4 linked regions of the Homo sapiens genome follow. The protein of the gene in region 2 purifies or fractionates together with the protein of the main gene of each other region. This does not show direct contact. Each region holds a gene or a part of one and is shown on either strand. Other genes may lie near its edges.

The links.
Region 1: the proteins of TRAPPC12 (region 2) and AMY1C purify together in Homo sapiens (affinity purification with mass spectrometry, with the first as the bait; 3 studies listed by BioGRID). This does not show direct contact.
Region 3: the proteins of TRAPPC12 (region 2) and EDRF1 purify together in Homo sapiens (affinity purification with mass spectrometry; 3 studies listed by BioGRID and IntAct, with this or other methods). This does not show direct contact.
Region 4: the proteins of TRAPPC12 (region 2) and TRAPPC13 purify together in Homo sapiens (affinity purification with mass spectrometry; 3 studies listed by BioGRID and IntAct, with this or other methods). This does not show direct contact.

Annotation. Positions count from the first base shown.
Region 1 is NC_000001.11:103,745,153-103,752,998, reverse strand, and holds the start of AMY1C (alpha-amylase 1C precursor), read right to left. Parts: upstream 3,102-7,846; 5' UTR 2,933-3,101; intron 2,576-2,932; 5' UTR 2,530-2,575; coding exon 2,362-2,529; intron 2,017-2,361; coding exon 1,870-2,016; intron 1,067-1,869; coding exon 869-1,066; intron 421-868; coding exon 190-420; intron 1-189. UniProt on the Homo sapiens protein: Calcium-binding enzyme that initiates starch digestion in the oral cavity.
Region 2 is NC_000002.12:3,382,593-3,389,918, reverse strand, and holds part of TRAPPC12 (trafficking protein particle complex subunit 12), read right to left. Parts: intron 2,300-7,326; 5' UTR 2,296-2,299; coding exon 1,249-2,295; intron 234-1,248; exon of another isoform or gene 6-233; coding exon of another isoform or gene 1-5. UniProt on the Homo sapiens protein: Component of the TRAPP complex, which is involved in endoplasmic reticulum to Golgi apparatus trafficking at a very early stage.
Region 3 is NC_000010.11:125,714,655-125,722,949, reverse strand, and holds the start of EDRF1 (erythroid differentiation-related factor 1), read right to left. Parts: upstream 3,242-8,295; 5' UTR 3,143-3,241; coding exon 3,035-3,142; intron 1,747-3,034; coding exon 1,538-1,746; intron 1-1,537. UniProt on the Homo sapiens protein: Transcription factor involved in erythroid differentiation. Involved in transcriptional activation of the globin gene.
Region 4 is NC_000005.10:65,627,778-65,635,103, reverse strand, and holds part of TRAPPC13 (trafficking protein particle complex subunit 13), read right to left. Parts: intron 5,637-7,326; exon of another isoform or gene 5,517-5,636; coding exon of another isoform or gene 4,764-5,516; exon of another isoform or gene 4,176-4,763; intron 1-4,175. Other genes in the region: SHLD3 (shieldin complex subunit 3), read right to left, coding at 4,764-5,516.

The sequences.
Region 1 (7,846 bases), on a different chromosome or scaffold from region 2:
TGTACCTCCATAAAACCTGTTGTGATAAAGAATTAGATATGCTGTATGTGAAGAAGAGGAGGTTAAAGAACACTGTTTTAAGGAAATGACTCAGTCTTTATCCTACAGAAATTGCATTTTTAATTGAATCTGCCGTGAATTTTCTAATGAATAGGATGATATTTTATATGCCTATATGTATTGACGTACCTCCTGGTAAATGAAAGGTTTACTACCTTCCGGGAACCAGTTACTGTTTAGATTATGCAGTTTGTCCAAAATTGCCTTTATGTCTCCAGGCCACATGTGCTTGGAAGCATCAATTCTGAACCCTGCAACACCAATGTCAATGAGATGGTTCATATATTCGGCAATCTTAGAACGCACATAATCCTTCCCCAGTGCAAGATCGAGAAGACCAGACAGACGACAATCTCTGACCTGTTGAGGTAAGAATGTTATGATTGATTAATAAAACCTCACTTTTCGCCTGAGAATCCATTTGATTATTCATTTATTCCATGATTCCTCAAGAGATATTCTATGGTGACTTCCTTGCATTGGACACTGGGGATGCTCACATTCTACTATAGATGTATCTTGGAAATATTTTCTAATAGAAAATAGAGAACTTAGGAAATAAAGTCGATGAGTTTTTCAATTGGTTGGGAGCTTTTTAAAAGTGGACAAATGTGTATTGATTAAAAATCTTAAATCAATATTTAAAGGTTTTCAAATATGGATTTGAGTTTCTTAAAGTAGTCAAACTTGTTAACCTCTGTCCCTAAGAGATCTAAATTCATATTTACAACGAAGTTCAATTAGCTACATGTCTACAACAAAAGGCATATATCACTCCTTATTCAGATCACTCTCGTAAAAAAATTACCTGAGTAGCATCATTATAGTTCTCGATATCTCCACTTCCAGTTTTACATTTACCATCATTAAAATCCCATCCAGAATATGGGACTGCTGGAAAGTCCCTACTTCCAGGGTTGAAGTAACTTCCACAGGTACTGCTTGTTCCTGCACTCACAGCATTACCACACATATGATTAATTACAGCATCCACATAAATACGAACCTAGAAAACAAAGTTTCTAATTCAGTGTGACTTACAGAGAGGCAGAAATTTAAAGAATTATTGATTAAATTTATAGTGTGCTAATAAAATTCCAAAATATTTCATACCTTATAACTATTTTCCTACAAGATCAAAAATCAACTGTGAAAGGAAAGTAATGTGAACTAAACACCTACATTCATTCCAGACACTTGGCCAAATATATATAGGAATGATAAACTGAGAGAACCGGAAACTACCATAAATAGGAGGAAAGGCAAAAAGCCCATTTTGGGGAGACACAACTCAGATGAGACTGAAAAGGTTACTATTTGGGAAATTTCAGTGGGTCACCAGGAGAAAGCCTGTACTCTCTACTAAGCTTGGAAGACAAATAAGGTAGCTATTCATCTCAAATTCTGCTCCTCATTAAATAGATAAGCTACCTATTCACCACAAAAAAAACCCAAGAATTAGGAATGGAGACACAAGTCATCTAAAAATGAGAGCAAATATTGTAACTGGAATTAAAATTCCTCACCAGAAAATCCTTCCAGGAAATATGGATAGTTATAGCGGTTAAAATTTGATGTTTTGCTTCAGAAGTAAACTCTGCTATAAACTTTAACTTATCTCTTTAGTAGAGAGCACATATACAAATATTTTCAAAAATTGAACATAAGGTGACAGTTACTTTTGAGTTTTAAAGTATGAAGTAAAATTAAAACTGATATGGAAAACTTTCTGCTCAAAAGGAGCAAGAAAGAAGAGACAGAAATCATTTTCCTATCTGTTATTTTTAAAGGAAACTAGAATTCACTTACCCCAACATTGTTGCATCTAGTCACCATGTTTCTAAATTCATCTTCATTTCCAGATCTTGTGCATAATTTATAGCTAACTGGTTGGTATCTTTCCCACCAAGGTCTGAAAGGGTTGTGAATGGCAACATTTTCATTTGGTGGAGAGACCTACAAATTAAACAGTCTTCATAAGTACCAAATTCTGTCTTACTGTATATCATTGAATGTTCTAGAATCTAATCAATAATACAAAAGATTCTTGAATCTTGGTATAGGCAGCTATCTCTTGAAAATATTAACAGCACATCGGAGGGCTCTTGTTGAAGAAAGATTATATCAGAAACAAAATATACAGTTGCAAAGAATACTACATTGTTTTTTCCTCAGAAAATTCTTTTACTTAGAATACTTACCTGTGAAGTAAAATGTTGCCCAAGCTTCACGTAGAAGATCAGAATAGTGTTTACTACAAGCACAGTGAATTCTGCAATTGATACTATGAATCATACCCACCTGAACCCCTCCAAATCCCTTGGGAGCTAAATATCGCTCACATTCAAGAGCAATATCAACCCATCGCCATTCAAACAGATGAACAATAGATGTTCGTCCTTGTTGTGTATTTGAGGAATACTGAGCCCAGCAGAACCCAATGGTGAAAAGCAACCAAAAGAGCTTCATTTTGCTTTGAAGTTGTCAGTGTCCTTTCCAGAAACTATTTATATTCCTGTAAGAAGCACATTTTACAATGTAAATAGTAGCATGAATAAATACTTGAGGGCAAACTGTTTATTCATAATCTGAAAAGGATTATCAATAATAATCCTAACTGGTGAAGAACATCAAAAAGTCTCTCATGGAAATCATCTCAATGACCTCTTAGACATTAATGTTTCTTTTCTTTTCTTTTTTTTTTTTTTTTTGCATATGGTAGCACTTTTATTTTTCCTTACACAATGACATGTTGCTGTGGCCTAATGTTCTCACATAACAGCAGAAAACCAAAATTTGTTGTCAACTCTTAAAAGATCGAGAATTGCATACTAAAAAACTTTACATAAATTAAAAGGATGAATACATTTACCGGTATAAATGCGAACCGCTTCCAACTCAAGGCAAGTAACAGCCCACGGTGCTCTGGTAGATAACGTAAGCTAAGAAAGGAAACTGGGTCCTATGGCTTGGACTTTCCAACCCTGACAGACCGACAAGACGGAAACAACTGGTTCAGGAGCCCTTCCCAGCCTCTAGATAAATCTCAGAACACTCAGCCCTGACACATTAATACCCTGCACGGATCAGAGACTGCTGACCACACAGACTCACCAAGCCAGACTTGTCTTCCACAAGCACGTTTTTAGCCATGAAGTGACCAAGCCACGTGTACTAAACACTGACATCAAAGGTATGTACAGATACCAAGGGGAAGAGTTAACTTGAATGCCAGGCCAAAATCAGCAACAAGTTCTACAATCCAGTGCTGATATTGAGAAGAGAGAAAGACCCTGTCCTCTTGTTTTATATTGTTTTCTATTCAGTAAAAACAACAAGGAAGCAAAATCAAAGGCACAAAACCAGGCCTGGGCCTGGTTGGCCTAAACCCAGTAGTTACAAATCAACTTATGATTTAGAAGCCGATGTTATTCATAGATTCCAGACATTGTATAGAAGAACATTGTGAAACTCCCTTCCATATTCTGTTTCTCCCTGACCACGGGTGCATGTAGTCCTTGTCGCATATCCCTGGCTTGTTCAAATCAATCACGACCCTTTCATGTGACATCTTTAGTGCTGTGTGCCCTTAAAAGGGACAGAAATTGTGCACTTGGGGAGCTCGGATTTTGAGACAGTAGCTATCCGATGCTCCCAGGTGAATAACACCCTTCCTTCTACAACTCGGTGTCTGAGAGTTTTGTCTGCCGCTTGTCCTGCTACATTTCTTGGTTCCCTGACCTGGAAGCAAGATAACTGATGGACGGCCGAGGCAGCTCCTTAGGCAGATTAGGCATGCCTTGTGGAGTAAGGCCGGGGCATCCCTCAGGCTGCCAGGGACTCTGGCCAGCCTGAGGGATGGGATCCAAAGAGCGCTCCCAGGTAGGAAATGGCCCCGGTTGAACGCCTCGCCAGAGCAGTGATCCCCGCGGAGGATTAACACAGTGGCTGAACACCAGGAAGGAACTGGCACTTGGAGTCCAGACATCTGAAACTTAGTAAGACAAGTCTTTTCAACTTGCCCCACTCCACCTGAGCGGAAGCTTGGCCTGATCGCTCATGGTGTGCCTGCACCCATATCAATTTCCATATAGAGATTCCTAGTTACAGCTAGTTTTAGATCCTCTACAGTGGTAAAAGGACAGGCAGCAGCAGTAGTAGTAGCAAAGGGACATTTATTTCAGGAAAGTTCTCGCTCCACCGGCCAAGAGAAGCCAGCACCTAAAGTTCTGTTTGACCCAGAGCTCGAGGACTCAAGGCAGGAGATGGCACCAACAGTGCCCTCAACCCCTTATCCAGTGGGGAGGCCCCCTTCTCCTGAGCCCACAGCCCCTAGACCACCCAGAGTAGACAAGAACAAAAGTGAAACTGCGGGAAAATCCACTTCCCTGGCAGCCCGCTTAACGGCCCAAGACGGGAATTCAAATGCCCTGAGAGAGCAGCGATATACTAGGACAGATGAGGTCAGACATACGGTAGAAAGGCATGCTTTTGTGTATCACCCTTTTACCTCTGCTGAACTACTCAACTGGAAAAATAACACTCCATCTTACACTGAAAAGCCTCAAGCCCTAATTGACTTGCTTCAAAGAATTATCCAGACTCAGAATCCTACTTAGGCTGATTGCCACCAGCTACTCATGTACCTCTTTAAAACACATAAAAGGCAACAGGTGCTGCAGGCAACAGTTAAATGGCTGGAGGAGCACATCCCAGCCAATTATCAAAGTCCCCAAGAATACATAAGAATTCAGCTGCCAGGAACGGACCCTCAATAGGATCCAAATGAAGGACCAGATATGGAAAGGCTAAGAGGGTACCGAGAGGCATTAATTGAAAGGTTGAAAAAAGGGGCTCAAAAGGGTACCAATGTAAATAAAGTTTCTGAAGTCATCCAAGGAAAGGAGGAAAGCCCAGCCCAGTTCTATCAAAGACCGTGTGAGGCCTATTGCATGTACACTCCTTTCGATCTGGAGAGTCCTGAAAATCAGCCGTTGATTAATACGGCCTTAGTTATTCAGAGTGCAGAAGATATCCAGAGAAAATTGCAAAAACAGGCTAGGTTTGCAGGAATGAAAACCTTGCAGTTACTGGAAAGAGCTAATGAAGTATTTGTAAATAGAGATGCAACAAGCGGCCAAGAAAGCCGTAAGGAGGGCGAACGCCAGGCCAGGTGAAACGCTAGTTTGCTGGCTGTGACAATTAGAGGAATTCTCCTGAAAAGGCAGAAAAAAGGGGGTTCTGGGAGGAATGCCCTGTCCAATCACTCACATTTGCAGCATGACTAATGTGCCTACTGTAAAGAAATAGGACATTAGAAAGATAAATGTCCCCAACTCAAAGAAAATCAGAGTGATGCAGAGCCAAAGACCTCAAACCAAGATGAAAGGATTTTGTTCAATCTAGCTGAGGGGCTGCTAGAATTAAGGGGAACAGGCTCAAATGCCCCCAAGGAGCCCATGGTCAGGATGACAATAAGGGGCAAAGACATTAAGTTTTTAGTGGATACAAGAGCCGAACACTCAGTAGTAAGCACTCCAGTGGCCCCCTCATCTATAAAGACGATTGATAGAATTAGAGCAACAGGAGTCTCTACCAAGCAGGACTTCTGTCTACCGCGCAACTGCTCAGTGGGAGGACACAAAGTGATTTATCCATTTCTGTATATGTCTGACTGTCCCTTGCCTTTGTTGAGAAGAGACTTGCTTAGCAAGTTAAGAGCCACCATTTCCTTGACAAAACAAGGCACTTTACAGCTGGAGTTGCCAGAAACAGGAGTCATCATGGCCCTTCCAGTCCCCCAGGAAGAAGAGTGGAGACTTTTGCTAACTGAGCCAGCTCAGGAAATAAAAGTGGCTCCAGCTGAGTGACGGCTCTGAGTAGAGATGGAGGACAATCCTCTGAGGCTGGCAATCAATCAAGCCCCCGTACTCATAGAAGTTTAGCCTACGACCTAGCCAATTGGACAAAAGCCGTATCCTGTTCCCAGGGAAGCCTTTAAAGGAATAGAGACTCATCTTATATGCTTAAAAGCCTCTGGAATTCTAGTTCCTTGCCAGTCTCCATGGAACACCCACCTCCTACCTGTCCCTAAACCAAGGACCAAAGACTATCGACCCGTACAGGACTTGAAAGATGCCTTCTTCACATCAGGCTAGTTCCTGAGAGCCAAAAGCTGTTTGCCTTTCAGTAGGAAGATCCGGAGTCAGATGTCACCATTCAGTACACTTAGACTCGACTTTCCCAAAGGTTCAAAAAGTCCCCCACCATCTTTCGGGAGGCCTCGGTTGGAGACCTCCAAATGTTTCCTGCTAAAGACCTAGGTTGCATCCTGCTCCAGTATGTAGATGACCTTCTGCTAGGACACTCCATGGCAGTCAGGTGTGCAAAAAGGACGGGTGCCCTGCTTCGACACCTGGAGGACTGTGGATATAAAGTGCCCAAAAAGAAAGCTCAGATCTGCAGACAGCAGGTACACTACCTAGGATTCACTATTTGAAAAGGGGAGTGCAGTCTATGGTCAGCAAGAAAGCAGGTCATCTGCAGCTTACCAGAACCTAAAACCAGGAGGCAAATAAGAGAACATTTAGGAGCTGTGAGATTTTTGCAGACTGCAGATTCCAAACTTTGTGGTGTTAGCCAAAGCATTGAATGGAGTTATAAAGGGGGTGACCGAGAGCCTTTTAAATAGAGGTCTCTACAACAACAAGACTTATAAGTTAAAAGAAAAACTTATGTCAGCCCAAGCTGACTCTAATGTAACTCTAAGGAACACCAAAAGACACCATTGGCTAACAAATGCTACATTAACTAAACACCAAAGCTTGTTATGTGAAAATCAATGTATAACCATAGAAGTCTGTAATTCTTTAAATCCTGCCACTTTGCTCCCAGTATCAGACAGCCCTGTTAAACATAACTGTGTAGAGGTGTTGGACTATGTCTATTCTAGCAGACCAGATCTTTGAGACCAGCCATAGGCATTGGTAGATTAGGAGTTCTACATGGACAGAAGCAGCTTCATCAACCCGCAAAGAGAAAGGTGTGCAGGATATGCAGTAGTAAACTTAGATGATGTTGTTGAAGCTAAGCCATTGCCTCAGAGCACTTCAGCCCAAAAAGCAGAACTCATTCCTCTAACTCGGGCTCTGGAACTCAGTGAACCTAAGATTGTAAACATCTATACTGATTCTTGATATGCCTTTCTAACCCTTCAAGTATGTGGAGCATTGTATAAGGAAAAAATTCTAGAGGAAAAGACATAAAATGTCAGCAAGAAATTCTACAATGATTAGAAGCAGTGTAGAAACCCCAAAAGGTGGCATTCATGCATTGCAGGGGATATCAGCGAGTTTCCGCTTCGGTTTGCCAAGGAAAGCCCTGAGCAGACACAGAGGCAGGAAAAGCAGCATCTACTCCTTACCAGACATCAGTCACAGCCCTGCTACTCCTTCAAATGCTTGATCTGGTGCCAACTTATTCTAAAGAGGAAAAAGAATTTTTTCAGACAGAGAGAGGACAAACAATAAAGGAAAGATACATAAAGTTACCAGATGGAAGAATAGCAGTGCCACCGCTGCTATACAGTCATGCTGACTGTATGTGAAACTACCCATTGAGGCCAAGAATCACTTGAAAAGCTGTTAGGCCAGTATTTCTACATCTCACCCTTGCCAGCTGTTGCTACAACAGTAGCGCAGTGATGCCTTACCTGTGGACAGCACAATGCGAAGCAAGGCCCCTCTGTACCTCGGGGAATAGAAGCCTCTGGAGCAGCTCATTTTGA
Region 2 (7,326 bases):
TCCATTCTGAGCCCAAAAAAGCCCCTGAGCCAGCCACACTGGGAGAGACACCACCTGACTTTCGGTGGGGGACCACCCTCGCCTCCCCTCTCTGCTGAGAGCTGTTTTGTGCTCAATAAAACTCGTCCGCCCTCCTCACACTCTGGTTGTCGGCATAATCTCGTTCTTCTTGGAGGCAGGACAAGAACTCAGGACTCCGCGGAGTGCAGGTACCAAGACAGCAATAACACTGTAACCCTCCATCCCCCACCCCCTTCGGCTGCCCCACTCAACGGGAAGCAGTGGTCTGTTAATGCGCCCGTTTAGAGCCGTTAAGATGCCCGTTAGTCCGGCAGCAGATGCGGGTCGAAAAGAGCTGTGTGCACGCTGTAACATCCCCTCTCGGGCTTCGGGGTCGCGGTTGTTGCTCTTCGGGCGCCACGGTGTTCCCCTCGCCTGGACGCAGGAGTCCACTGTGGGAGTCACTTGCCACACGCCTGGTCCAGCTACAAGCCCCGTGTGAAGCCTGCTCCTATGCTGGCGGTTGGAGCAGCCCCCGGACCCCTACACTCAGTTGCTCGCACAACCCACCTGCTGGGGGCTGAGAGCACAGTCACCGAGGCCACGGGATATGCCAAAGCGCAAGCCAGGTGCGGCCCGGCAGGCCTAGTGGGCGAACCTGGGCCGAGAGAGGCCTGGGCAGGGGCATCGCCGACCACGGAGGTCTCCAGCTGGCAAAGCGGCACCGAAAAAAACCCTGCATCAATTGTCTTTCATTAGTAGTGAGATCGAACATTTGTATGTTACCATTTAGCTTAACATTTATATATTTCTGTGATTTGTTACTTTTTGGGTCACGCGTATTTTTCTTATTCAACCTATAAAAATTCTACATCGGGCACATTATATGTTACAGGAATATATTTTTCCATATTTTAAAGAAAGAAATGGATTTATTATTAACTGGAGTTCAAATGTCAAATGGATTACAGGACATGGAGAACTGACTGAGAGAATTACGGTAGAACTGTCTGCCTTGGTGGTATTTATTTCTACCTCTCTGAGTAGCAGTCCATTAAATATGTTCTGTTGGGGAAACCAACAGATCCCTAATTACCCAGGGACAGAGGAACACAGGCGCTCACAATGGGATGTTAGGAATTACTGAAAACAAGGCCTTCTCCTTCTCCATCCCTAAAGGGGCACTGTGCGTATCTCACAGACGCAGAGAGGAGGCACGGGCTGCGGAGGTGGGAGACCCGGGCTCACCTGGATGTTGTCGAACCTGAGGCCCGGCATGGTGAGGTTCTCCTTGTCCACGAACACGGCGCCGCGCTGCTGGGTGGCCACGGCCCGCAGGACTCCACGCGTAGCCTCGCCGGGAAGCCAGGCGTCGTTCCTCCGGTCCATCTCGCTCATGCTCAGGGCGGTGGCAAAGGGGTCGTCACTCCCTGCAAACACTGCCTGGATGTGCGCGAAAGGCTCTGGCGACGCCGGGGGCGCAGCTGCCTGGGGCCCTCGCATGGCCACGGGTTCGGGGCGCCCCTCGGTCCCGGGCACAGCGAGGGGAGGCGGGCTGGCGGGGGCCGGGGAGCCCGCGCCGGGATTGCTGACGGAAATGAAGGCGGAGGTAGTAAAGGAGTCGAAGAAGTCCGAGGCCAAGGAGTGGCTGGCGGCCGTGTCTCCGAAGAACGTGCTGAGGCTGGGGCTGGGCTGCACGACCTGGGGCGGTGTCCTGGCCGAGGCCTCGCTGGCGCCACCGAAGCTGGGCGACTTCACCATCTGCGGCTCGAAGCCGTCCCCGGAGGCTGGGGGCGCGCGCTGGCTGAAGATGGTGCACACCGGGACCGGCTCCGCAACGGGAGGCTCCTGCTCCGGGCGCGCGGCTTCGCTGCCTGGGACCTCGCGGGCCGCGTCCTGCCTCGGGGCCCCTCCGCTACTGGGTGCCGCGTCCTCGGGGGCACAGTCGCCGTCGGCCTCGCCGCTGGGACTCGGGGTGCCCGCGGGCTCCGGGCCTGGGTCGCCTTCCCCTCCGGGCTCAGCTTCGTCCCGCACTCGGCCCAGGTCGCCCGCGTCGCCCTCGCTGTTGGGGGAGTCAGAGATGAGGACGCTCTCCATCATGTGTTCGTTCAGCTTGTCCGCGAGAGGACTCGAGCCTTCCGATGCGGTCTCGTTCTCTTCGGATCCAAACTCATCTCCGCCAAGATCGATGGTTTCCTCCTGGAAGAGCAACCCCTGCTCCTCCGGAGGCGCGAGCTGAGGGGGGTGCGGGGCCTCCGGGGCCGGGGTCTCCTCGCCGCCGCCAGCGTCCTCCATGACCCTGAAAGCAAAGACAGAGAGAAGGCCCCTGAGCGTGATCTTCATTCACCTCAACCGAAAAATGAGTATTGCTTATAGATTCAAATGACGCAGACTTCCATTTCTCCAGCTTCTTATCCATGTGCTTTTGATTATGGTAAAATACACATAAAATTGACCACCTTAAGTTCAGTAGTGTTAAGTACATCTACATTTCTGTGCAACCAATCTCCAGAACACTTTTTATCTTGCAAAACTAAAATTCCATCCCCATTAAACATTCCCCCGTATACCCATCTCCCCCGCCTAGAGCATCCACCATTCTACTATAAAATAAGTGGAATCACCCGATAACTGTCTTCCTGTGACTGGCTGATTTTACTCAGTATAAAGTCCTCAAGGGCTATTTATGCTACAGCTTGGTCAGAGTTTCCTTCCTTTTTATGGATGAAAAATATTCCATGGTATGCATACACTACATTTTGTTTATCCAGCTATCTGTTGTTGAACACGTGGGTTGCTCCCATCTTTTAGCTATTGTGGATGCTGCTGCAATGAACGTGGCTGTACAAACAGCTCTTTGAGACCCTGCTTTCAATCATTTTGGGTAAATACCTAGAAGGAACTGCTGGATTATATGGTAATTCTATTTTTAATTTTTTTGAGGCACCAAAAAACTGTTTTTCATAGTGGCTGAACCGTTTGTCATTCCCACCAACAGTGCACAAGCCTTGGAATTCACATCCTTGCCAACACTTGTTATTTTGTTTTTATTTCATAGTAGCCATTCCAGTAGGTGTGAGGTTCCAGCCATATAAACACTACTTCATTCTGAGAGTCAGCTAAGTCCCTCCTCTTCCATGAAGCCCTCCCAAGACTCTTCAATTTGTAATAGTCTCTTGACTTCCCCATGCCGTCCGCCCCTACCCCCGCCCCACGCCCCAGCTCATATTATCTGCCTGACTCTGGAAATCTGATACAGTGCGAATGACATGAAAAATTTAAACAGTAAGAAAACAGCACACTCACTAAGCACTGATGGCTGAAGCTGACAACACAACTAGCTAACATTTATCCGCACATACTATGCCCCTGGCTATATATACATATGCCTGTGTGATTCTCAGAACACCCCTCGAGACAGCTGCTATCACTGTCTTCGTTTCGCAGATGAGGACACTGAGGCCTTGGGAGGCTATGTAAGCCGAAATCACACCGCTAGTGAGTGGGGAAACCAGGACCAGCCAAAGAATGAGACAAAGAGCTCAAACTGTAAAAAAGTATTTGTTCTTTTTCTTGAAAAACTTTTACTTTATGTAGTTTTACTCTCATAGTGAACAAATTCAAGTTAAGGAAATCTAAGAGACTATGATAAAAGATAAGGGATTTTTTTCAGAATAAAACAACACGTACCTTTTTTACTTAAAAAATGACACTTAGCTGATCTCTAGATAAGACTACCCTTTTCTCACTGTCAACACTTCCATCATAGTATTCCCAATGAGTCAGCCTTCCCAAAACATTATTTTAAAGTACATAATCCAAGTTATACATTTTGAAGAAGTTTCCGGTTCAGCCTGGTCAGCTACTAATTCCCTTATACATTCATCCAATAATTGTTAAGTATAAATGAATAAAAAATCCAATGAAAAGGAGTAAAACGTTTTTTTTCCTGCCATGTTTCACCGGGAGCCCGAAGAACAAATTGCCCTAGAACCCCAAAGGGGGAGCCCCCTGTGCATGGTAAGGCTGCTCCTTCGGGTCCTTCCTGTGCAGGGATAGAGGCCGGGCACAAGGAGCAAACAGGCAGCATGAGGCAGTGCCCCCTCTGAAGTCTCCCAGCAGGACTTGAAGGCACTAGCGTGGTCTGCGTATTTTATTTTAGAAATAAGAATTGATTTCGATATAAGCTAATGATGAGAGAAAGGGATCTTCCCTCCGTCTCATCTACCCTCAGCCCTAACAAAATTCTAGGTTCTAAAGCTAATTCTGATTCAATCTCACAGATTTTAAAAGTTTTATTGCCTTTGTGAAGAAACTTTTTAAAGAAACAATTCTTACTATTGTGAAGATGAAGCTGCTTTAAACCTGTAAGATTTAGGGAAATCTGTTTATCAGAGATATAATAACAAAAAACATCGCCTAGAAAAACCACCAAAATAATAAAAATTAAGGTAAAATGCTTCTAAATTATAAAGCTTAAAAACTTTATAAATTGTAAATTAAGGAGAACTGATAAAATGGGAATGTCCAAAATTTTCATTAATACCTGCAAACCACTTTTGAGAAGAGAAGAAAATAAAAAAATAAATTTTATTCTTAAGTAAATACCAAAGTAATAAAAAGCCCTAATAATTTAGGGCAAGGATGATCACTTTTGCTTTCACACAAATAAAATCTAGATGCAGGAAAATGCTTGTAAGTAAGGATCTGAGGGTTTCTTCTCTAGAAAATCAAGAGGAATGCTCAAATAAAAATGATATAAAACGTGATTTAGATGATGCTTTTATGAATGGGAAGACATACATATATTATAAAGCTACATCTATATAAATTATATACATAAGATTTTGTGAGAATGGACATATAATTTGTAGCAAAATAGCTTCTTCACTTCAAGGGTTTCCTTACTCTAATCTTATTCCAATGTAAGGTTCAAATGCAAAGCAGACACTAGTAATAACCATGTATATATGACGAGATAGTTCTATAACCATAAAAAAAGTATAACCAGTAGTTAAGTCTTCCTACAAAGAAAATATAGGGTCCAGAGGGTTTACCAGTGAATTCTACCAAAGATTCCGTACAGATAATTCCTACAGTACAAAAATTCTTGCAGAGAAGAAAAAAGACACATGACCCAATTCACTTTATAAGGCTAATATAACCTTGAGACCAAAATTTGACAAGGCCATACTAAAAGGGAAGCTATCATCTCACTCATGAACACACATGCAAAAATCTTGAAATATTAGCTAACTGAATCAGCAATGTATTTATTTTCTACCAAACTCAGGTAATCCCAGAAATGTACTGTTGGTTTAATGCGATAGATTAAATAAAAGTACATGACTATCTCAATAGATGCACAAGAAAGTATCTAATAAAATTCAGCATCTGCTCAAGATAAAACCTGTCAGCAAACTAGCAACAGAAAGTAACTTCCTTAATGCAATCAAAGGTATCTACCAAAAACCTAAAGGAAACCTCAAATTAACAGTGAAACGTTTAAAGCATTCTCTTTAAAAGTAGAAAAAAGATAAAGATGTCCTCTTCAACATTTTTATGCTGCCTAATACTGGAGTCCTCGGGCAGGATTAAGGCAAGAAAAATAACTAAAAGCTACAATAAAAACTGAAAAGAAAAAAATACAAACCTTCATTCTTCGTGTATGATTATTTATGTAGAATACATCAAAAATCTATGGTATAAAGACTGAAATATTGGGCCAGGCACGGTGGTTCAGGCCTGTAATCCTAGCAATTTGGGAGGCCGAGGAGGGTGGATCACCTGAGGTCAGAAGTTCAAGACCAGCCTGGTCAACATGGTGAAACACTGTCTCTACTAAATATACAAAAATTAGCCAGGTGTGGTGGAGGGCGCCTGTAATCCCAGCTACTTGGGATACTGAGGCAGGAAAATCACTTGAACCCAGGAGGCGGAGGTTGCAGTGAGCCGAGATCGCACCACTGTGCTCCAGCCTGGGCAACAGCAGCGAAACTTCATCTCAAAAAAAAAAAAAAAAAAAAAAAAAAAAAAAAAAAAAAAAACAAGACTGAACTATCACAAGGGAATATGTAGCACACATCAAAGGAAGAGACGATTTTCCTTGAGTGATGTGTAGACAAATCATGCAGCTGGGAAAAAATAAACTTGGAATCTTGTCTCACCACAGACACAGTATCAATCTCAGGGACGTTAAAAACTTAACTGTGAAGGCCGGGTGCGGTGGCTCACGCCTGTAATCCCAGCACTTTCGGAGGCCGGGGCGGGCGTATCACGAGGTCAGGAGTTCAAGATGAGCCTGGCCGACATGGTAAAACCCCGTCTCTACTAAAAATACAAAAATTAGCCAGGTGTGGTGGCGGGCACCTGTAATCCCAGCTACTCTGCTACTCGGGAGGCTGAGGCAGGAGAATCGCTTGAACCCAGGAGGCAGAGGTTGTAGTGAGCCAAGATTGAGGCACGACATTCCAGCCTGGGTGACAGAGAAAGACTCCGTCTCGGGCGGGGCGGGGGTGGGGGATCAAAAATTAACTGTGAAAGGCAAAACTTCAAAACTTTCAGAAGAAAATATAAGAGAATATATTTTCAGAGTAGGCAAAGCCTCTTAAACTAGGCATAATCAGTACAAACCATAAAGGGAAAATGGATACATCTGCTATATTAAAATGGAAAGTTCTATCATTAAAAACCTAAAAAAAGTGAAACAAACAAATGTAACTGAGAAAGGATTAACACGAAGAATACATAAAGAATCCCTACAAATTAATAAAAGCACACTAAATGATCCATTAGAAAAATAAGCAACAGAGCTGAAAGAGGTATACCTTTGAACATCCATGTTGAGAAACCACTTGGTATTATCTAGTAAAGTTTAAAAAGCACATTATCTTATCACTTTGATAACTATACATCTTGATTTTTCCCAGAACAATTCAATTTTTCACCCATGGTTTAAGTTATTTCTATTATTTTATTAGTATTATTATTTTATGAGACATAGTCTGGCTCTGTCACCCTGGCGGGAGTGCAATGGGACGATGATGGCTTACTGCAGCCTCGATCTTCTGGGCTCAAGCCCATCCTCCTGCCTCAGCCTCTGGAGTAGCTGGGACTACAGGTGTGCACCACCACACTCAGCTATTTTTGTATTTTTTGTAGAGATGGGGACTCAATATGTTGGCCAGGCTGGTCTCAAACTTCTGAGCTCAAGTGATCCTCCTGCCTTGGCCTCCCAAAGTGCTGAGATTACAGGCGTGAGCCACGTGCTTCGCCTCAGTAAAATCATTAAGTGTCTCCTTTCACTCTTAAAGGAGTCTTGGTTGA
Region 3 (8,295 bases), on a different chromosome or scaffold from region 2:
ACTCTGAAACCAGGATGTGTATCACCATCACAGTTGGCAAGTTTTTTTTTCTTAGTGGTACTAAAATAATGGTGTGTCTTAAAGTCAATGGCATCTTAGATTTGATAAAACATGGTAATAATCATTAGAAGCATCCAGTAGGAAATATTTAGAATAAAAACAATTATTCTTTATTTTTGTAATCACAAAACTCAAAGTCTCCAAGGGAAAATAGTTCAAAACTTTATTCTTTTTAGGTGGAGAGATAAGAAAAACAGAAACAGAAACATTTATCAGGATTTTACTTTCTGAGATTGTGTTTCTAGTGATATACAATACCTCTTAAAAAAATACATGAAAAAAATGTACCTGACACCAATTCAGCCACAAAAGGAAATTAAAAAAAAATGTTAATTGAGCAGCCAACTGATGCCACGTACCACCTGAAGCACATCTATAGTCTATAAGCCTGAAAGGTACCCGACATCACCATGTTCCAACTACTAAATGGCAGAGTCAGGACACTTACCAAGGACTACCTAACAGCAAAGCATGCTTTGTGATTTACTGTATGCTTGAGCCAAATTATTTAGCTCTTCTCAGCTTCCGTTTTCTCAGGTGCAATATAATTAACAGTGCCTATCTCAAAGAGTTGTTGTGAGAATTAAATGAGATAAGCATATAAATACTTGCCACAGCATTTGTATAGAGTCAATATAATTATTCAAATTTCCTCACAACATTTAATTATGTTGACAAATCACAACTGATTAAGCCATTCTTTTAAAAAATGATATTTGGGTTATTCCCAACTTTTTGCTCCTATAAATGATGCTACAAACAAACAGCATTTTTGCAAATATAACTTTTATTTTCTGAGGCTTTAGGATAATTTCCAAAATACCAGCTCATAAAGTATTAGTGTATTTGTGCCTCTTGCTACAAGTTACATGGAAATATTTTAGATTGAGTTGCTGAGAAGGGGGAAGAAGAAAAGAGAACCCTACACATTAAATGTCCTACAGTATGTACATTAATACATTTTTCTCTATAAGACCTCAGGCTACTCTCTCAACTTTGAACACCATCAGTTCTGGTGTCAAAGTCAAGGTGTAGGTCACCCAACATGCTGGGTTTTTAAATCTGGCTTTTCCAGATCAACCTGCCACCATTTAATGAAAAACTCCACAGGAAAGATGAAGGAATGTTCAAGGTTTTCCTCCTCATGCACCAAGCTGATCCTTTGTATTCACATATCCAAAAGGTATGCAAATTGGCTAAAATGAAAGGGCTGATTGAACTTTGGCAGTCAAAACTCATCTTTGCTGATAACATGACGTAGACTTAAAAGAAGCATATGCAATTGATATTGTATGTATATCTTCATGTTTTAACATCATCTATTATCAGAATAAAAAGCCTTTGAAAATCAAATGTGATCTTTCTCTAAAGAGAAATCTCGACAAGTTAATAGGCATTACAAACTGAATTTAAAAGCAAATAAGAGTTTTAAGTGAGGGTGGAGGGGCAGGTAAAAATGCCACTGATTAATATTTACCTTGAAAATGGCTTGCTTTTCTTGCTGTTGCCAAGAATGGTAGTTCCTGCTGGCCCTAGTTTGGCACTCTCTCGTAACCAGTTGGCAGGTGGGAGTTTCAAGTCTGTTTTCTCTTCAAGGCGTGCAAATGCTGTTCGAGGAGGGGCAGAAGAGTATTTCACCACAGCTCGGCTCTTCACTTCATTGCCTCCAAGAAATAAAGCTGATCCCTAATTAACACATTGGGTGAAACTTTAATGAAAATTACTAAGAACGAAAAATCTCACCTTTATAAAAAGAAAACAAGAACCTGTCACACCAGGCTTCACAAGGAACGTATGCCACATGTTACTAACAGCACTTAATAAATTTGAGCATAAATGGTAACATTTACTTAGTTCTTTTACACCAACTTCAAAGAAAAAAGATGAGTCAAGGAGTATGATGGTTATGGTTATCAGCTAGAAAATGGACCACCCACATCTCTTTTAAAATGTATTCATGTAAAGTGGAGAAGCAGAAACCAAGGAGACTCAATGGTATCATGTTAACTAGATGCAAACTTTAGTAAAGCCTATTTTCAGTATTAAAGATGTATTTTAATTCTTTTTTTTTTTTTTTTTGAGACGCAGTCTTGCTTTGTCGCCCAGGCTAGGGTGCAGTGGAGCAATCATGGCTCACTGCAACCTCGGCTTCTGGGGTTTACGCCATTCTCCTGCCTCAGCCTCCCTAGTAGCTGGAATTACAGGCGTGCACTACCACGTCCGGCTAATTTTTGTATTTTTAGTAGAGACAGGGTTTTGCCATGTTGGCCAGGCTGGTCTCGAACTCCCCGACCTCAGGTGATCCACCCACCTCGGCCTCCCAAAGTGCTAGGATTACAGGCGTGAGCCACCGCGCCCGGCCAAAGATGTATTTTAATTTTAATAACACATCATTCATAAAATAGTCTGGTAGAACATTTGGGCTTTTTGTTTTAATGCAAATATTTAGTAATCGATGCATCGGTTCATGCATGCATGCATGGTTCAAATACTCTTGAGTCTCTAACTTCATAGAAAGGCATTGGGGGTTCGTTCCTCACAGCCTGCACTTGCACACTCCCAAAGCAAGTTCGGCGTCTGGGTTCAATATTCTAACCTTTCACGCAGTACCTCTTCTGCATGGCAAACATTTTACACCCTTTGTGAATTAGTTCGGTCTCATTCTCGGCGAGTCACTACCTGGCACCGTTTCTTCCCTCCTGCTTTGCACGACTGTGCCACGTTTTGGAACGACATATTTACATGTACCCTCCTTGAGAGGAAAGATCGTATCTAATTCACCTGTCGGCTACCAGAACTGCTTTTAATACGAATACCTGCCGACTGGAGCATGGACTTCAACTCCCTGTTTTGGGGGTGTCAGGGAAACATGGAGAAGCCTCCAGAATCTGCCGGGAACCGTGGCATCCCTCCCCGGTGGAGCGGGTCCTCCGCTCCCACATCCCTGGCAGGTCCCCCTCCGCGGAGGACTCACCTGTGCAGAAGATTCCTCGGATTCTCCCTGGGACAGGAGGCTGAGCCCTCCTCGAGCGGCGGCCCCGGCCGGCGGACCCTCGGCTCCGGCCTCCTTGGCATCCCCCATCACTTCGATCCAGGGCAGGCGATACGACGGGGGAGCGGAGGAGCAGCAGCAGCAACGCAGGCCCAAAGCAGGGTAAGCGCCAGAGACGCTCCGCGGACCGCACTTCCGGTCTCTGCCAGGAAGAAGTAGCTGTGACTCGCCATTAAATCTCGCGATCTTTGTCCCGAAGGCCCGGCCCCGCCTCCCGCTGCGGGTGCCACCTTCGCGGCCAGGGCGGGAATTGTAGTGCGCCTGCGCTTGTCCGAACCTCTTCGGGAGACTACTTCTCGCGGTATCTGACTCCTAGGCTCCGCCCTCTGCACGCCGCTCACGGTATCTGACGCTCAGGCTCCGCCCCCTGCATGTCTTTGTTGGCAAACAGTTCTGGGGGTCGTCCGATCCTGCAGGTAGTGTCCGCGTGGGAGGGGAGGTGCAGCCGTCAGCGCTGCCGGCGGCTCCCGTTACGTGAATTAGTGAGAGGTTCAAACTTCTTCCCCAGGCTTCAGTGTCACATCTTTTCACACGGGCACCCCGAGGGCCCGGACTGGAAAGGCGAGCCAGCCATCTCGAGACTGGGCGCTCCTGCCCGCCTTTTAGTGCCCATGTGGCCCCATCCTGGGTGTGGGAGCGGCGGGGCTTCCGGGGAGGGCGCTGGGACGCGCGGACGAGGCCCTCCCCGTTTAGGGAATGGGTGGCTTTCGGAGTCTTCTGGGGGCCCGGCATGCCCGCTGCTTGCGGGGCGTCCCAGGTGGTGCAGGACCCGTGAGACGCTGAACCTGGGGCCTCGTAACGCCTAGGTTTCCATTCGGGCGCTCTGGATGGGTCCGAGACTCGGCATTTCTCACAGGTTCCCAGGAAACGATGCCAGCGCTTTGAGTAGCGAAGAGGTGGAGAAATAGCCCGGGCCGTTTGCAAGCTTTGAAGGTCCAGGCTCTCTTTCACACTCCTCAGTGTCATCTCAAACTGTCAAACGCAGCCACATCCGTTATACAATACATGTTTTGTAGTAAAAGTGTTTTGTTGTGCCGTAAGATACAGAAAGTGTTTTTAAAAATTAACTTGGCTCTTGCAATTTGGCTGTCTCAATTTGTAATTCACGTTTGGCTCTTACAACTCACTGTCCTGTCCGTTTTCAGGAATGCTCCTGATGAGTAAGCATTCAACTCACAAATTGCTTTCAAATGTAACAAAACAATTTTATGAATTAAATTTAACAGGCCGGGCGCGGTGGCTCACGCCTTTAATCCCTGCACTTTGGGAGGCCGAGGTGGGCAGATTGCCTGAGGTCAGGAGATCGAGACCAGCCTGACGAACAGGGTGAAACCCCATCTCTACTAAAAATACAAAAATTAGCCAGATGTGGTGGTGGGCGCCTGTAATCCCAGCTACTAGGGAGGCTGAGGCAGGAGAATCGCTTGAACCTGGGAGGCAGAGGTTGCAGTGAGCAGAGATGGCAACACTGCGCTCCAGCCTGGGCGATAGTGAGACTCTGTCTTAAAAAAATAATAATAGTGAATTAAATTTAACAGTTAATTTGATATAATAGTGTATTTTGTAGACATTTACTTCAACATGTATTGATTTTGATTTTTATCATTTCATTTGAATATTGCAGCCAATAATTCTTTTTTGGTTTTTGCAAGTTATGCATTGTTTTTTATGGTGAAAAGTTGAACATAATATCTAACACTAGGAGGAGGATAGTCAAATTTGGTTTTGGTAGAAAATAAACCCTGTGCAACCATAAACTTGTTTTTCAGGAATATTTAAGAACATTTAAATTGCATATCATATAATGTTAAGTGATAAGTGAAATTTTAAAAAGCCAATATGCAGCCTAGCGCGGTGGCTCACGCCTGTAATCCCAGCACTTTGGGAGGCAGATGCGGGTGGATCACGAGGTCAGGAGATCGAGACCATCCTGGCTAACACGGTGAAACCCCGTCTCTACTAAAAATACAAAAACAAAATTAGCCAGGTTTGGTGGCAGGCACCTGTAGTCCCAGCTACTCAGGAGCCTGAGGCGGGAGAATGGTGTGAACCCAGGAGACGGAGCTGGCAGTGAGCCGAGATTGCACCACTGCACTCCAGCCTGGGCAGCAGAGCGAGACTCCGTATAAAAAAAAAAAAGCCAATGTGCAATATGATCTTAATTTTAAAAACGTCTCCATTTCTGTCTCTGTGTCCACAAAACAGACCTCTGAGCCGTAAAATGAAGTGATTTAAAATTTATTCTTTACATTTATTGATTTGCATATATTGAACTAGCCTTGCATCCCAGGGATGAAGCCCACTTGATCATGGTGGATAAGCTTTTTGATGTGCTGCTGGATTCGGTTTGCCAGTATTTTATTGAGGATTTTTGCATCAATGTTCATCAAGGATATTGGTCTAAAATTCTCTTTTTTGGTTGTGCCTCTGCCCGGCTCTGGTATCAGGATGATGCTGGCCTCATAAAATGAGTTGGGAGGATTCCCTCTTTTTCTATTGATTGGAATAGTTTCAGAAGGAATGGTACCAGTTCTTCCTTGTACCTCTGGTAGAATTCGGCTGTGAATCCATCTGGTCCTGGACTCTTTTTGGTTGGTAAGCTATTGATTATTGCCACAATTTCAGAGCCTGTTATAGGTCTATTCAGAGATTCAACTTCTTCCTAGTTTAGTCTTGGGAGGGTGTATGTGTCGAGGAATTTATCCATTTCTTCTAGATTTTCTAGTTTATTTGCATAGAGGTGTTTGTAGTATTCTCTGATGGTAGTTTGTATTTCTGTGGGATCGGTGGTGATATCCCCTTTATCATTTTTTATTGCATCTATTTGATTCTTCTCTCTTTTCTTCTTTATTAGTCTTGCTAGCAGTCTATCAGTTTTGTTGGTCCTTTCAAAAAACCAGCTCCTGGATTCATTAATTTTTTGAAGGGTTTTTTGTGTCTCTATTTCCTTCTGTTCTGCTCTGATTTTAGTTATTTAAACAGAACCAAAGACAAAAACCACATGATTATCTCAATAGATGCAGAAAAGTCCTTTGACAAAATTCAACAACTCTTCATGCTAAAAACTCTCAATAAATTAGGTATTGATGGGCTGTATCTCAAAATAATAAGAGCTATCTATGACAAACCCACAGCCAATATCATACTGAATGGGCAAAAACTGGAAGCATTCCCTTTGAAAACTGGCACAAGACAGGGATGCCCTCTCTCACCACTCCTATTCAACATAGTGTTGGAAGTTCTGGCCAGGGCAATTAGTCAGGAGAAGGAAATAAAGGGTATTTAATTAGGAAAAGAGGAAGTCAAATTGTCCCTGTTTGCAGATGACATGATTGTATATCTAGAAAACCCCATTGTCTCAGCCCCAAATCTCCTTAAGCTGATAAGCAACTTCAGCAAAGTCTCAGGATACAAAATCAATGTACAAAAATCACAAGCATTCTTGTACACCAATAACAGACAAATAGAGAGCCAAATCATGAGTGAACTCCCATTCACAATTGCTTCAAAGAGAATAAAATACCTAGGAATCCAACTTACAAGGGACGTGAAGGACCTCTTCAAGGAGAACTACAAACCACTGCTCAATGAAATAAAAGAGGATACAAAGAAATGGAAGAACATTCCATGCTCATGGGTAGGAAGAATCAATATCGTGAAAATGGCCATACTGCCCAAGGTAATTTACAGATTCAATGCCATCCCCATCAAGCTACCAATGACTTTCTTCACAGAATTGGAAAAAACTACTTTGAAGTTCATATGGAACCAAAAAAGAGCCCGCATTGCCAAGTCAATCCTAAGCCAAAAGAACAAAGCCGGAGGCATCACACTTCCTGACTTCAAACTATATTACAAGGTTACAGTAACCAAAACAGCATGGTGGTACCAAAATAGAGATATAGATCAATGGAACAGAACAGAGCCCTCAGAAATAACGCCGCATATCTACAGCTATCTGATCTTTGACAAACCTGAGAAAAACAAGCAATGGGTAAAGGATTCCCTATTTAATAAATGGTGCTGGGAAAACTGGCTAGCCATATGTAGAAAGCTGAAACTGGATCCCTGCCTTACACCTTATACAAAAATCAATTCAAGATGGATTAAAGACTTAAAACGTTAGACCTAAAACCATAAAAACCCTAGGAGAAAACCTAGGCATTACCATTCAGGACATAGGCATGGGCAAGGACTTCATGTCTAAAACACCAAAAGCAATGGCAGCAAAAGCCAAAATTGACAAATGGGATCTAATTAAGCTAAAGAGCTTCTGCACAGCAAAAGAAACTACCATCAGAGGGAACAGGCAACCTACAAAATGGGAGAAAATTTTCGCAACCTACTCATCTGACAAAGGACTAATATCCAGAATCTACAATGAACTCAAACAAATTTACAAGAAAAAAACAACCCCATCAAAAAGTGGGCGAAGGACATGAACAGACATTTCTCAAAAGAAGACATTTATGCAGCCAGAAAACACATGAAAAAATGCTCACCATCACTGGCCATCAGAGAAATGCAAATCAAAACCACAATGAGATACCATCTCACACCAGTTAGAATGGCAATCATTAAAAAGTCAGGAAACAACAGGTGTTGGAGAGGATGTGGAGAAATTGGAACACTTTTACACTGTTGGTGGGACAGTAAACTAGTTCAACCATTGTGGAAGTCAGTGTGGCGATTCCTCAGGGATCTAGAATTAGAAATACCATTTGACCCAGCCATCCCATTACTGGGTGTATACCCAAAAGACTATAAATCATGCTGCTATAAAGACACATGCACACGTATGTTTATTGCGGCACTATTCACAATAGCAAAGTCTTGGAACCAACCCAAATGTCCAACAATGATAGAATGGATTAAGAAAATGTGGCACATATACACCATGGAATACTATGCAGCCATAAAAAATGATGAGTTCATATCCTTTGTAGGGACATGGATGAAATTGGAAATCATCATTCTCAGTAAACTGTCGCAAGGACAAAAAAACAAACACCGCATGTTCTCACTCATAGGTGGGAATTAAACAATGAGAACACATGGACACAGGAAGGGGAACATCACACTCTGGGGACTGTTGTGGGGTGGGGGGAGGGGGGAGGGATAGCATTAGGAGATATACCTAATGCTAAATGACGAGTTAATGTGTGCAGCACACCAGCATGGCA
Region 4 (7,326 bases), on a different chromosome or scaffold from region 2:
CACCATTTATTTACAACCTATGAATTATAAAAATTAAATGTAAATACAATATGCATTCATTATAGAAAAACTGGAAAATATAATTTTTAAAGCTTAAAGAGTATTAGGAGCATAAGGCTTTAAAAAAATTCTAAGTGATTTCACCATAAACAATATCAACAAAATATTAACTTTGGAAACTCAGTAAGTGTTTTTTGTTTTTTTTTTGAGACAGGCTTACTCTGTCACCCAGGCTGGAGTGTAGTGGTGCGATCTCGGCTCACTGCAACCTCTATCTCCCAGGTTCAAGAGATTCTCCTGCCTCAGCCTCCTGAGTAGTTGGGATTACAGGAATGCACCACCATGCCTGGTTATTTTTTTTTTTTTTGTATTTTTAGTAGAGACGGGGTTTCACCATGTTGGCCAGGCTGGTCCCTAACTCCTGACCTCGAGTGATCTGCCTACCTTGGCCTCCCAAAGTGCTGGGATTACAGGCATGAGCCACCATGCCCGGCCAAGTGTTTCTTCAAGTAATATTAATTCTGTGTAGAAATTACAAAAATGTCAGAAAACATATACGTTTATATAATTCCAATCAAAAGTAAGATATTATTTTTGGAACATGACAGAATGTGTCTAAAGTTTATTTAGAGAAACAAATAAATGAAAATAAGCTAAGGAAATTAACGGAGAAAAAAGAGGAAGAACTGAATTTACTACATATTATAACATATTTAAGTCCATAATCAACTAATTGACTTATTAATATAAGACCATACCGATATATTAGTTTTTCAAAAAAAAGATAGGATATACTTATATAAAGAAATTGCTGGGAGTGGCCAGGCATGGTGGCTCACGCCTGTAATCCCAGCACTTTGGGAGGCCAAGGCGGGCGGATCACGAGGTCAAGAGATTGAGACTATCCTGGCTAACACGGTGAAACCCCGTCTCTACTAAAAATACAAAAAATTAGCTGGGCGTGGTGGCGGGTGCCTGTAGTCCCAGTTACTCGGCAGGCTGAGGCAGGAGAATGGCATGAAGCCGGGAGGCGGAGGTTGCAGTGAGCCGAGATTGCGGCACTGTACTCCAGCCTGGGCGACAGAGCAAGACTCCGTCTCAAAAAAAAAAAAAAAAAAAAAAAAAACGCTGGGAGAGATATTTTAAAAAACAACCTCTTGACAAAAAAAAATCAATTAAAGGATTAGAAGTTAAAAAAATCAATTAGCAAAAGGATTATTCATTATAAGGTGCAAAGACATGGTTAGCTATCTGGGAAAATAAAATTTAACTAAAAAATTCACTTTAAATATAAATAGACAAAAATTAAGCCACAGAAAAGTAAAAAAAAAGAAATTGAATATTTATTATAGTCTAATGAGTAAACACTCTATAATTTTTTTAAAAATCTTTTTCAGTTACTTCTAAAGACTGTCGTTTGACCACATCAAAATAAAAACAAAAACATAAAATTAAAAAATCATAAAAACTTGTAAAATTTTTCAGAAAATGAATCACAGAGGGCTAGTTCATTATTAAAAGTATTCCTTCAAATCTGGCTGGGCACAGTGGCTCATGCCTGTAATCCCAGCACTTTGGGAGGCCGAGGCGGGCGGATCACGAGGTCAGGAGATCGAGACCACGGTGAAACTCCGTCTCTACTAAAAATAAAAAAAATTAGCCTAGCATGGTGGCGGGCGCCTGTAGTCCCAGCTACTCGCAGAGGCTGAGGCAGGAGAATGGCGTGAACCCGGGAGGCGGAGCTTGCAGTGAGCTGAGATCGCCCACTGCACTCCAGCCTGGGCAACAGAGCAAGACCCCGCCTCAAAAAAAAAAAAATTCCTTCAAATCAAAGCCAAAATACTATAAAGACTATAGACCTACATGGTCAATTCAGAATATAAGTAATGTTCTAGCATATGTAAAAATGTACCACCCAACTACTAATTAACCAACTATGGCATTCATATCAAATTTAGTGGCTTTCTCATTCTGGTTTCAGCTTAAATGTCATCTTTTTCAGAAAAAAAGTAACAGGTCATTCTGTTTCACTCATGGTACCTTGTATTTATCATGCAGTATATTTATTTGTTTATAGCACTCCTTTCCAAACTCCATGAGGTCTAGGCTCTTATGTACTACGTTCAGTTTTGTAGCATCCATATTTGGTGTAAGTTCTGCTATTCAGATCTTCCCTGAATAAAATAATTAGCACTTCATGAAAGTCCCTAAATAACTGACATTATTTTGAAAGTGTAAGTTTCAGAAACTGAAGGCAATTAAAAACCTGCTATATTAAGCAGCTGGCTTTTGAAATAGTCAACAAATGCTACCCTTAAAATTTCTGAAGTTACTCTGTATAGCTAGCATTTACTGAGCATTTACTAGCGCCAGGCATTATGCTAAATATTTTACAAGCTGAACACATTTAATTCTCATGAGTACTCTCTAAGTTGGTATTACATTAACCCCAATATACAGATAGGGCATTGACAATACCTGCAGAGGGTAATTTGCATACAAAGGATTATATTAGTAGATAAGTGGTAGAATCTAGATTTGAACCCTGGTGATTTCACTCTGTTGAAAAATAATTCTCTATAATAATTATTAATTATAAGCCTGGAGCCATAAACCTGGAATGTCATGCCTTACCAGAAATACCCCATGGGAATTCAAAGTAGGAATGTATTCCAAAGAGTATTAATCAGCTACAGATGAATATGGGGAGGCGTTTCCAACCTTCACTCTTATTTTTAACTACGAAAACAGAGAAAAAGGTGCCCTGAAAACAGATAAAAAGGTGCCCTGAAAGTGATACACAGGAGGCAGTTTCTCCCAATTTAAACAGCTAAAATCACTAGACAGGGTCTCATTTTGTTACCCAGGTTGGACTACAGTGGCACGATCATGGCTGACTGCAGCCTTGACCTCCTGAGCTCAAGTGAACCTCCTGCCTCAGACCCACCCCCTACCCCCGCCCACCAAGAGGCTGCGACTACTGTCGCATGCCACCATGCCCGGTTAATTTTTGTAGTTTTTGTAGAGACGGAGTTTCACCATGTTGCCCAGGCTGGTAAGTTCACTTTTAGTACCAGTTGGTGTTTTCTATTTCTTCCCTATTATTTTTTTCATTTCATTAGAAAACAAATCTGAATAAAGAGAAAATACAGTCTCAAGGGAATCCTGAAACATTCCTTTTTTTTTTTTCTTAGTGTCCTGGAGTTCACCCAAACATGTAGCTAACATATTTGCTTATTATAGGTTCCAATTTCTATTATAAAGAAAAGTCCTATAAAGCTTAGTTTTTCATGATTCCTGTGGTTTAGCAGGGGATGAGATGGTGGGTAAAAAATGATCCTCCATTAAAAATAAAGTGATCCCAACTTGGTATTAAAAGCAACTTTTTTCTTCATATTTTCAGATTATGGCCTTTGCAGCAACGTAGATGCAACTGGAGGCCATTATCCTAAGCCAATTTATGCAGGAACAGAAAATCAAATACCACATATTCTCATAAGTGAGAGATAAACAATGAGTATACATGGACACAAAAAACAGAACAATAGACACTGAGGCCTATTTGAGGGTAGAAGGTGGCAGGGGGTGAGGACTAAAAAACTACCTATTGGGTATTATCCTGATTACATGGGTGACAAAACTATTTGTACACCAAACCCCTGTGGCACACAATTTACCCATATCACAAATCTGCACATGTACCCCTTGAACCTAAAATAAAAGTTAGAAAGAAAAAAAAATTAGTGGGCTTCCATTTTAAGCAACCTCAGCCATCTCAGGCTATGAAGAATCCCTCTGAAGGGAATGTTTACCATGCATTATCAAGCTCCTACCATGACAGGCACTGAGCTTCAAGGTAAACATGTCTATATTCCTAGTTAAGTGCAGTCTTATTTTTCTTAGGGAGCTGGTGTGTTTAATAGTAGTAATGACATGTAAGCTGTGTGAGGGCAAGGTCCATGTCTGTCTCCTTCCCTAGTATATCCTAGCACCTAGTGCAAAGTAGGCATTTAAATATGTTAAACAAACATACATGCTTCTACAAAACTTTTACTGTTTTAATCCCTTTGAGCATTTTTATGAGGTGATGTGTAAAACCAATTACAAGATTATGCTTATGGGGAACCTACAATGACTCCAATCATCAGCCAAGTAATAATTAGCACTAACTATCATTAATACTGAATTATCTGTATTAGAAGAAATAAACAATCATTCAACATTTGATACTTTCCTTCAAAACAGGATACATTATCGTTTTAGGCAAAGTATACATTTTGTATCGTTGTTTGAAAACAGCCTATCAATTGTTATTACATATCTTTGGAAACATCATTATAAATCTAGACTAGTCTCCCACTTTGAACTACATTCATGCCACATAAATAGCACTCCAAAGAGAATTGTTTCGAGTTTTATTTTTTAAAAAATTACACTTGAGGTAAGGAAAAAAATACAGTAAAATTAGATTTTAGAGATTAACCAAAATCCAAACTATACAACTTAATTCATGACTAATTCAATCACAGTTTGTAACAAAAGGAACAGAACATTTTTACCTTCAAATTCAGTGTAAACAATAATTTATCACATTTAAAAGAAGGCTGCCAATAAGCAGAACTCAGCAATTTCTTGACTTAATTGACAAGCCTAGGAATTCTAAAAAGTCATTAAAAATTTTAAAACCTGTAAAAATTATTTTATCTATTTCAATCCATATTCATTTCATTCAGAATATTCTTTTTGACAATCAGTGGAATTCATTACATACTAAAAATAACACCATATTTATGCACAAATAAATTAATTTTTCCAGTAAGAGCTAATCTTCCTTTAAGAAGACTTCCCACATATTCACAATACATAATATCACAGAACACCCATATTTGGCCTAAATGCCTCTGAATTGTAGCATTACAAGATGGAAGTTCATTGTGCCTAATAATTTGATTGAGTTTTGTCCAAATGTCTTCCAGAGTTTGGCTGTTACAAATAGTGTGTTCTATTGTCCATCTTGCTCTATAAAGTGAGTGTAAATTTAGTGCCTTTAAACTATCTTGCAATTTTTTAGACAAAGGAGAAACGTTTTTAGTACAATTATTGCTGGGAAGGGAAATACTCCAAGATCTCCTCTTGTGCTGTTTTCCCTTTTCTGATTGTTTACCCAGATTTCCAGAATTAGTCTGTTCCTTCAGTGTGTGTGACCAGGTTAAATGCTGCTTTTTCAAGCTAGGTTGAAACTCCAATAGATCTACTGTGCAATCATAACTGTGTGACTTAGCATCATGTTCTGAAATGGTTAAGTACTGTTTCACATCTTCAGCTGCCTCTTCAGAAATCACAGGTGGTGATCTTTTAGGTCTGAGTGGAAGCTTGGACCCATCATATGGAAACCAAGGTATAAATCTTGATAGCGGACGAGTAGGAAAGTCTTGAATTGCTTTTTCTGCAATTTTTGGCAGTTGTGTGGGATCACTCTCACATGGTCGATAATGTAATATTACTTCTGTAGTCATTCTGCAGTAATCCAGTTACTCTTAGTGATGAGAAAATTTCTTAGTTGAACTCCTCAGAGCTAGAATGTTAATTTATTATTGCAAGATTGTCTCTCTTGCCAAATCAGAGGGAAACAGGACCTAAAGTAGAAGTATTGCAAAGAATAAGATATGGTAGGGATACCCTGCCTACCAACAGGCAGGGAGAAAAGGAAAAACAAAAAACAAAAACCAATCCCAATGTGGTATTTTACCAAAGTGCTATTGGTAAATGTGAATGTAATCTACAAACCTGAAAATTCTTTCTCTTACCAAAATAAGGGATCTGAACTAGATGCCCTATAAAATCACTTCCTGCCTAAAAACGCTAGTAGTCAACATGTTTAACTCAATAGATATAAAGGACTTGGAAGTATCGATATTAATATATTAAGTAATAATAGTCTTAAAACTTTAGCAGAAACAAAGAGTAAATGAATGATTCTTAAAATATTGTTTTCATATGAATTAACAAAAAATGTAATATTTAAAAATTTGAGGCAACTAAATTGAGGACAATGAAATCACTGTAAATTCTAATCCAACATGGTGAAAACCCATCTCTACTCAAAATACAAAAAAAAATTAGCTGGGTGTGGTGGCGCATGCCTGTAGTCCCAGCTACTAGGGAAGCTGAGGCAGGAGAATAGCTTGAACCTGGGAGCCAGAGGTTGCAGTGAGCCAAGATCATGCCACTCAGCCTGGGCGATAGAGCAAGACTTCATCTCATTAAAAAAAAAAAAAATTCTAATCTGTCTGGAAGAAAATTAATCATTTTATACTTAAAATTATGTAGATTTGCCAGGTGCGGTGGCTCATGCCTGTAATCCCAGAACTTTATGGGGGCCAAGGCGGGCAGATCACGAGGTCAGGAGCTTGAGACCAGCCTGGCCAACATGGTGAAACTCCGGCTCTACTAAAGATACAAAAAATAGCCGGCTGTGGTGGCGTGTGCCTGTAATCCCAGCTACTCAGGAGGCTGAGGGAGGAGAATCGCTTGAACCCGGGAGGTTGAGGTTTGCAGTGAACTGAGATCGCGCCATCGTACTCCCATTGCACTCCAGCCTGGGTGACAGGGCAAGACTCCGTCTCAAAAAAAAAAAAAAAATTATATGGATTCCACCAAACAAATATATAGATAGAATATTTGATGATTTCACGTCATTCTCTGTAGTAAAAACTAAAACCATTAATATGGTTTAACTTTGCTAATATGGTTTAACCAGGCTAAGAACCAGTTTTGTGACACTGTCTTCTCCTCATAATCCAGGCAATTAAACAGTATGGAGACCCCAATACCATGGCTTTTGAATTCCAGTTTGGAAGAGAACAAGAAGTCTAGACTCCTATTTTTTTCTCTTAGAGCACAGAAGTCCTCAAGTTGCCCCAAATTAAGTCACTGATAATAAATTCCAGCATATGGTGCATAGGCTCAAGAATGGAGCCTTCCAATATCTGCAAGTTAGGCTTGCTAATCAGGCCCAAAGCTGTAAGAGCCATAAAACAGACTTTTTCACATCCTAACAACAGCAGAAAAAAATAAGTTGAATCCCTTCTCCCCAAAAATCATTAGAGAATTACTTGATGAGGGTTCTCCCACTGCTAGGATAACCATGAGTATGGATTCTTGTCATCATTTCACAATAGAATCACTGTCTGATTCTGAAGAGTTAGAAGAAATAATTTCATTATTTTTACCTACTGATACTGCCCACTAACAGATCTGACAACTCTCAAATTCATAAATAATTGTGATCTTTAACATCCATATTTTAAATATGGATCTAAATGT